Regions from separate parts of the Homo sapiens genome. Here region 1 is linked to region 2. Evidence: fine-mapped expression QTL. A gene starts in region 2. The other region holds a variant in brackets. All regions are shown on one strand. Distances are from middle to middle.

Evidence for each region. PIP is the estimated chance that this variant, and not a neighbour inherited with it, causes the effect.
Region 1: its variant is the best candidate, but not a certain one, in a credible set for the expression of DPYSL3 in lymphoblastoid cells (GENCORD, PIP 0.59).

Annotation. Positions count from the first base shown.
Region 1 is chr5:147,480,388-147,484,643 of GRCh38, forward strand. The region is part of intron 1 of DPYSL3 (dihydropyrimidinase like 3); the gene reads right to left. Among named protein-coding and RNA genes, the nearest start is that of DPYSL3, 28 kb to the right of the region's middle. The variant A/C (reference allele first, on the strand shown) is at 2,279.
Region 2 is chr5:147,507,505-147,511,760 of GRCh38, forward strand. DPYSL3 (dihydropyrimidinase like 3) reads right to left here and starts at 2,564. Exons shown (of 14, transcript NM_001197294.2): 1 at 1,974-2,564. The coding sequence starts at 2,354.

The DNA.
Region 1 (4,256 bases), 27 kb before region 2:
CTGGATTAACGTCTATGTCTCTTTTCGCTCTTTCAACTTCCAACATGTGTATAATCGACTCTCTGTATCAAATCCCCTCTGTCTGAAGCACCTAGTAGGGTCTCTGTTATGGTGGCTGAACCTAGACTGATATGGCTATGTTAATTATCTTGTCCAATGTCACACAGCTGGTAAGCAGCATAACCATTACTAAACCCAGGTTTTCCACAGAAGTTTAAATGGGCAGCTTTATCTGCTGTAGGAAGCTAGGACCACAATCAATACAGATTTGTTGAAATGAACCAATTTCTTAGTGCACACATCATGAATATATATATATTATTATTATTATTATTATTATTATTATTATTATGAGAAGGAGTTTCTCTCTTGTTACCCATGCTGGAGTGCAATGGCGCGATCTCAGCTCACTGCAACCTCCACCTCCCGGGTTTAAGCGATTCTTCTGCCTTAGACTCCTGAGTAGCTGGGATTACAGGCATGTGCCACTACGCCCGGCTCATTTTGTATTTTTAGTAGAGACAGGGTTTCTCCATGTTGGTCAGGCTGGTCTCAAATTCTCGACCTCAGGTGATCCACCCACCTTGGCCTCCCAAAGTGCTGGAATTACACGTGTGAGCCACCACGCCTGGCCATAAATCTATTTTTATTAAAAATAAAACATATGTATATAATGCTTTAAAGTTTACAAAAAATTTCATACGCATTATTTCATAAAATTCAGAGAGGAAATGTAGATAAGGGTGTAACTTTTGGGATTAAACAGTCCTTGGTTTAATCTCAGTTCTGCCACATAATAGCTGTGTGACAGTTGGCAAGTCACTGAACCTTGTTGAAACTGTTTTTGTTATCTATGAAATACTGTTACTAGAATCTACCTACCTCATAGGGCTGCTGTAATAATTTAAAATCATATGATAGAATACACTACAATGTAATATATTACACATAATATGTCAAGAACTGTGTAGGGTCTGAAGTTTTATATTACTTACAATCTAACAAATTAGCCTGTTACTATTTCATGGATGCTGGCAGAAGACAGGAGGTTCCTGGGTCAGAGACAAATGACTTTATTACTCATGAAAAAGCATTAGCTAGAGTTTTATGTTGGCTTTCTTTGGTTGCCCACACCTCCCAAGTCTCACAGGGATGATGCAAAAGGCTTGCTGTGGTTTGAATATGTTCACCAGAAAGTATGTATTGCAAACGTAATCCCTAATGCAACAGTGCCTGAAGGTGGGGCCTCATGGGAGATGTTTAGGTCATGAGGGCTCCACCCTTATGCATGGATTAATGGCAATTATAAAAGAGCTTGAGGCTGTGAGTTTGAACTCTTGCTCATTTTTGCCTCTCTTGCCCATCTGCCTTCTACCATAGTATGACATGGCACAAAGGGCCTTGCTAGATGCCAGCACCATGCTCTTAGACATTCCAGGTTCCAGAATCATGAGCTAAATAAATTTATGTTCATTATAAATTACCCAGTCTCAGGTATTCTGTTATAGCAGCACAAAATGGACTAAGACATGGTTCAACACAGATGCCAGATGCCTGCACATACAGTGGGTTGTGTTACAGGAGAATAATACTGATGTAGGAAGATTTGCCACTTTTACAGTAAGAGGAAGCAAAACTACTCTTTGTCTAGGGGAAACATTACCTCATCACTCAAGATTGCTCACTAAAAACATAACCATGAGAAATGATCCAGATAAAGAGCAGTCAGGGCCTCATATTTTTGTTATAACCAGCAACAACATGCAAGGATACCCAAAACCCATGGTTCCCTGCCTCTCCCAATGTAATTTACCAAGGACTTAGTAATTACACGATAAACAATAGCTATCAGTTTGGATCTCATAAAACCCAATCATGAAAGAACCCTTTTCACAATCTATAGATTTGAGGAAATCAGCTCAGAGAAGTAAAATGATTTGCTCAGGGGTAATACCCTTTGTGGAAGTGGTGGATCTGAGTGTTCAAAAATCAGAAATTATGACACCAAATCCCATGGCCATTCTTCTCCATCTAGATCTATATTTGTAAGGATAGGTGGCACACACCATCAGCTCAGATTGGCCACATAATGTGTGGAGCTCAGTGCCAATATTTCTAGAACTCTTGAATTTTAGAGCCAGAATGGCCCTACTTATAATCTATTCTAGTGATTTCCCAACTGTGTTCACCAGAGACCGTTTTTTCCACTGAGCTTCCTCAGAGGCCACCAAGGGGTAGAGGCTGGGCACATAAAAGGAAGGTTGAGAAAGTCTCTATC[A/C]AAGCAGTTTCACTTGTATTGAGCTTACGCATAAGATTACTTCTGATTTTTTTTTCTAAAAGAAGGAGGTTGTATTAGTCTGTTTTCACATTGGTATAAAGATACTGCCTTAGACTGGGTAATTTATAAAGGAAAGAGGCTTAATTGACTCACAGTTCTGCATGGCTGGGGAAGCCAAAGGAAACTTATAATCGTGGCAGAAGCTGAAGAAGAAGCAATTACCTTCTTCACAAGGAGGCAGAAAAAAGAAAGTGTGTGAAGGAGGAACTGTCAAACTCTTATAAAACCATCAGATCTCGTGAGAACTCACTATCATGAGAGCAGCATGGGGGAACTGCTCCCACGATCCAATCGCTTCCCACCAGATCTCTCGCTTGACACGTTGGGATTACAATTCAAGATGAGATCTGGGTGGGGACACAAAGCAAAACCATATGGCGGTGCTCACAGAAAATCTCACATTTAACTCAACTATAATTATTTCAACAATGGAGAAATTAAGGCCCAGAAAGGTAAAGGGATATGATCAAATTTACATGGTGAGTAACAGATCCATGTCTCACCCTCACTTTCCGAGCTTTCAGCGAATGCTTTTTAGTTAGAGCTGTTATATAATAAGAGGTACTTTTAAAAGCAAACAGTAGCAAGACACTAACAGGAAGCCAGGTGCTTTGAATTGCCTGGCCAGACATGACAATGGCCCCGGCTAATGTAACACTGTGTTTGAAATCAGAAAAGCTTGATGTGACTTCCTGATAAACTGTGTAATCAGCTGATTGACGTCCATTCATTCACTACTTCATTCCAATGTTTATTAAGGGTCTGTATATGCCAGGCACTGTTCTAACTCCCAGCTACACAACTGTGGAAAAGATAGATTTTGAATGAGTTACTCAGACTTTCTCATTTATTTATTCAAAAATTGGTAATGAGCATTTACTATGAGTCAACCCTGTGGCAGTGGTAAGGACACAGCCTTCAAAGGAATCTCAGGTGAGTGGGAAAGGGGTTAACAAGTATTTATTACACAGAATAATGAGTATTAAATAGAGGTGCATTCTGAAGCATATAGGTGGACCTCACCCGGAGAAAGGTCTCAGAAAACTTAAGATGAAGATGAGATCTGAACAAGAAGGAGTTAGAATAGCTCAGTTATCATATCTGTAAAATGAGAATAACTCGATTATCTCATCTGTAAAATGGGAATAATATCTCCCCCCCAAGGGATACTGTGAAGGCCCAATGAGCTACATATGTGAAAAGTCCAGCCTGGCACTGAGGAGTGAACATTACACGTCACTTTCCATCTCTGTCTTTGAACACACAAGAGTTGACCAGGATCTTAGGTCTGTCTCTCTGTCTGTCTGTCTGTGGCTAATGACCTGTGAAATCAGCAGCCCACATAATAAGAAATCTTTGTCTCTGGCCTCATTAGAACCAGGTTCCCGGCAAGTAACCAGTTCCAGACACTGGCCTTGGAAGGGAGCCCGTGCTGCTGGCCACTTCATTTGGGAATTTCATCCTGTTTGCAAAGATTGCACCAAACAGAATTTTTCTCCTAAAGTGGTTTCCTCCCCCATCCTCCTCCCCTTCACCAAATGATTTATGTCTCGCTGAGGGCTTTTCCCCTTCATAGCCCATCTGGCCTTCCTGCCTCAGCCTGCAGGGAGGGTGTAATCCTGTGTTTGCAGCTTTACAGATGGTTTCTATGGAAATTATGACAATATTACAGCTATTGTGGAGCCACATCACTGCTGACTGAATGAGGAGACAGGACTTGAAAGGGGAAATTTGGAATTAAATATCAACAACCTACGTCCTTAGAGACAATGACTGGTTTTCATGGAGCTTTTCCTATCAACAGTAACAAACAATAACAAACCAATAGTGTTGTTGTATTAGCAATATAAAGAAAGGTTATTTCTCAAATTCTTTGTGCAAGCTACACAGTGTAGACAGAATCAGGCCCTAAGCAAGT
Region 2 (4,256 bases):
GAGCACCTCCAATGTGCCAAGCATTCTAGCCACATAGATAAATCCAAATACACAATCTCTACCCTCAAGGAAATAAACAACAAGTTCAGAACTTGATAACCTCCGTGGTCTCTTCTAACAGTGTGATTCAACCAAATTAGAGATAATAACATGGCCTGGATGAAGCAGATGGCAAGCCCAAACTTACAAATGACTATGTAGCACTAGAAATCCTGCTGATGCCTAGGTTGTATTATTATTTCTCAATTAGTAGCCAAAAGTATAGGGTTTGCAAAAGGGAGGAAAACGGGAGAATTGCTAGGTTTAAAGGAGGAATATTTTCCCTTTCTCTAGTTACCATTCTTAAATCTTGCAAACCCAGCATATTATCTGGCTTACATCAGGGGTGTTTCAGCAAAGGGAATAGCACTGACTCACAGCAATTGTTACCGACCTTTTCCATCACTACTCCCGCCCGTTCCAGTCAGGAAGGGAACATTTCAATATGGACAAGTCAGACATGAAGAAAGGAATAACCTTTCTATAGGGTTCTTCTTCAGTTTAGATATCAACCAAAACATTTGCAAAATATCAGAAGTTTTCCCTAAAACGTTGGTAAGCAAGGGCTTAGGGGAATCACGCACTAAAAGGATGATGTGAAAATCACAAACTAAATGAATGATTTCAGAGGAAGCCGACATTGTTTTCCAAGTGGTACCCTTGAACAGCACTAACTTCAGCACTTATTTTCCCTGGTGGTCTTAGTAGTCAAAGGTTGGTTGGTTGGTTTGTCTAAACTTTCAAAAATCAAACAGTGAACAGAGATGCTGTTCTTTCACTAGCTCATTGCATTTTAATGGAAAAACAACTAAAACCTGAATAAGCATTAACTGTAATTGCTCTGAGGCAGACATTTCCATTTCAGGTTGTTATTCCTAACCATATTAGTGCAGAATAATACATGCGGATGGATTTTGCGGCCATTACCTAGACAAGGGTGAGGGCATCTGATTATTATTATTCCCCAACTGAAAGCTTCAGTTTGAACTCTGAAGTCTCCAGCCCTGCCAGGCCCTGCATTTTCTGAACTACATCTCTGAGTCTCTGTGAAATAGACACATAAATCAGGGCAAGCTAGATTTCAATGCCATCCCTTCAGTCAGTTCAGTGTGACATAAGTTTCTCAAAAATACACATACAGAAGAAATTGGCTTTGGCACATTTAAGAGCAGCAGGGAATTTGCATCTCATGCTAGTTTAATGTGCACTCTTAATACTCTCGTCTATTTTCTAAAATATAATGCTATTCTTGCAGAGGCAGCTGGACCCCTGTAATACCCAGTCTTGTGCCAAGCTATGTACACAAATACACTCTTTACAAACACAGATGTGAAATGCCGTGCTAAGACACAAGCGAGGCATAGAGAGAGATTCGCGTGTTTAGTCTAGAGGCTCCACACCCAAAAGTTTCAGGGACAGAGCTGATGTTTGAAGACTGAGAGGGGAGACCGCCCCTCCAGTACTTTCATCCGGGCACTATGGAGATGACCCCCATATTCCCAGCATCACTTTGCCCTCTGCCGTGGTGACCCGGGTTGAGATTTAATCTAGGGCCAGAGGGGGGCAAGACAATTGTGCTGTTGGCTACTAGAGAGAAGAGCTGGAAATCACTAAGCCTTCCCGGGCTGACACACCCACCCAGACCGGATGGCCCAGGAGTGCGGCGAGGAGGCAGGGGCAAAGGACGCGGCTCCAGGCAGGGGAACCCGGGCATCCCTTCCGCGCTTGCACGAAGATGCTGCAAGTGGCGACACGCGCGAATCCAGGGTCTGGGCTAGGAAGTCGCGCTACGCTCAGTGGAGGATGACCCTTTCCTCCTCCTTGTCCCCCAGCCCCGTGCAAAGTGAGCTGGAGAAAGTTGTGCCCGGGCCATGGCGGCCAGGGCTGGAGAAAGGAACGAAGGCAAGGAGGGAAGTGACCCGGGGCCCCCTTACCTTGTCCTTGGGGCCGAGGTTCTGCAACACCTCTTTGCCGGTGGCGCTCCGGATCTCTACCCCGGCGGGGGCGGGGGAGGCGGGCGCGGGCTCCCTGCTCTCTTCCCGGCCTTGGCCCCTGCGCGGGGTGTCCCCCTCGATCCCGGGCCGACTCCCCGATCCTCGGTCGCTGCCCTGGCCGCTCCGAGGAGTCTTCGCGCCCCGCTGCCCCACGCTGAGGGCATCGAAATCCAGCGTCTTGCTCTCGAAGGCGCCCTCCACGTTGCAGAACATGCCGCCGTATTTCTGCCGCGGGACCTGGTCCGTGGTGCCCGGCCTGGCCAGGTACACGGGCAGATCGTCTTCGTGGGAGCTGTCCCAGCCCCTCCGGCCCGAGGCCATGGTTCAAGCACGAAAGCGGCCCGCGGGTTTTTCTTCCCCAGAGGCGGAAAGGGCAGCCGCCGGCAGCGTGCGCCGAGCCACAGTGACTGTGGCGGGAGGAGGCGCCTGAGCCTTCGCGCCAGAGGCGGCAGTGCTGCTCCGATTCCTGCTTGTCCCTAGCGAGCCAGCGAGCCACACAGCCAGCTAGCGCGCGGAGCAGGGGCCCAGAGTAGCGCCGCGCTTGGCTCACTCGCTGGACCTCTCGCCCGGCCGCACCTCCTCACGCACCCCCAACCCTAACGTGGCCTCCCGGGCTGACGCAGCGTCGGTGCCCATCACAATCACAAACCAAACTTGGCGCGCGCGCACACGCACACACAGGCGCACACTGCCCGCTCGCGCAACAGCCTTGCCTCACACACTTTCGCGCAATTTAGACGTCTTAGAAATGTTCACACTCCAGCACTTGACTGCTTCACCCACACTAACTCCCTAGTTTGCCTCACAAACACAAAGCTTTCTGACGTCCCTCGTGCACAAAAACCCAGCTGACCCAGGTGGATTCATCTCAAAGCCAAGTCCTGATTTACAACTAACACATACAAACTCAAATTTACGACAGACTCACAATCCTACCCGGAACCCCGGACTTGCCTCATCCTGATCTTTAGGATGACACTCATAACTACACCCAGTTCTAGAATCTGCCTTGCAAACCCACACTCTCACATGAAGTCCTGAATTGGCTTACACACACAACACAAACACACACTGAGAGAGAAGCCCTCTTACTTCATTGAGAGTCACAAAAGCCCTTTGGCTCACATAAGCCCTTTCTTAGCTTCTATATAATATCCTAGTTTGCTTTTTACCACCCCTAATTTGCCTCATTTCAGATCACACACACACACACACACACACACACACATTCTTAGGTTTTGCCTTGCAAAGCACTCTTCATTGATGCTCTGTCCCTCATACAACAAACCCCAGATTTTAATCTCACACACTGACACAAGTCCAGGTTTACCTCAGTCGGAACCGACACTTAGATTCACACCTAAGCCCAGATTTACTTCAAAAATCACACAACCAAAGACTTTGCTTTTCATGTTACCTCAGATGTATGCAGACTTTACTTATGTACATCTGTGCTTTCATAACCTCATTCTCTTCCCCACGTCCACCCACGTATACTCTGACGCCGACTCTGCCACATAAACAGAACCTGCAAACTACATACCTTACATCATATCTGCACACACCACCTAAACCCAAAACCTGTTGTGCCGGATTTAACTGTGCTCCCTCTCAGAAAGTCACCCATTTATTTATTTAGTCAACCAACATAAATCAGGTACCCACTATGGCTTTCACAAGATGCTGGAGCAACAGTGTCGAACAAGAGAGATCGGCCTGTCCTCACCAAGAATGTAGTCTATTACCACCCATCTAGGTAGCACAGCCGTTCACTGTTCTGCTCAACTTACAGAACTTTGTTTATTTTGTGAACTAAACACTCCCCCTCCCAAGTATGGACACATACATGCTAAGCTCCATAAAGGCAGAGATCTGGTCTGTTCAGTTCACCTTTGTATATCTTGTGCCCAGAACATCTACAGGCACTTGATACATTCTTTTTGAACAAATGGAGGATAACAATAACAACGACAGCAGCACCAGAAAATGTTTATGGAGTTATTGCTATGTGCCAGTCATTATTATAATTGTTTCACATATATTAACTCATTTAATGCTCATAAGCATATGGCCGGCTTCTTTGTGCGCATAGACATACTCTTTGAAGGCATCCACATAGAATTTGATGAAATTAACCTTTGAACTCTGATTTTGGAGTGGAACAAAGGCTCCGGAAACTGGAATGTCAGTCTCAGGTCTGTGACAGCCACAAAATATTGAGGA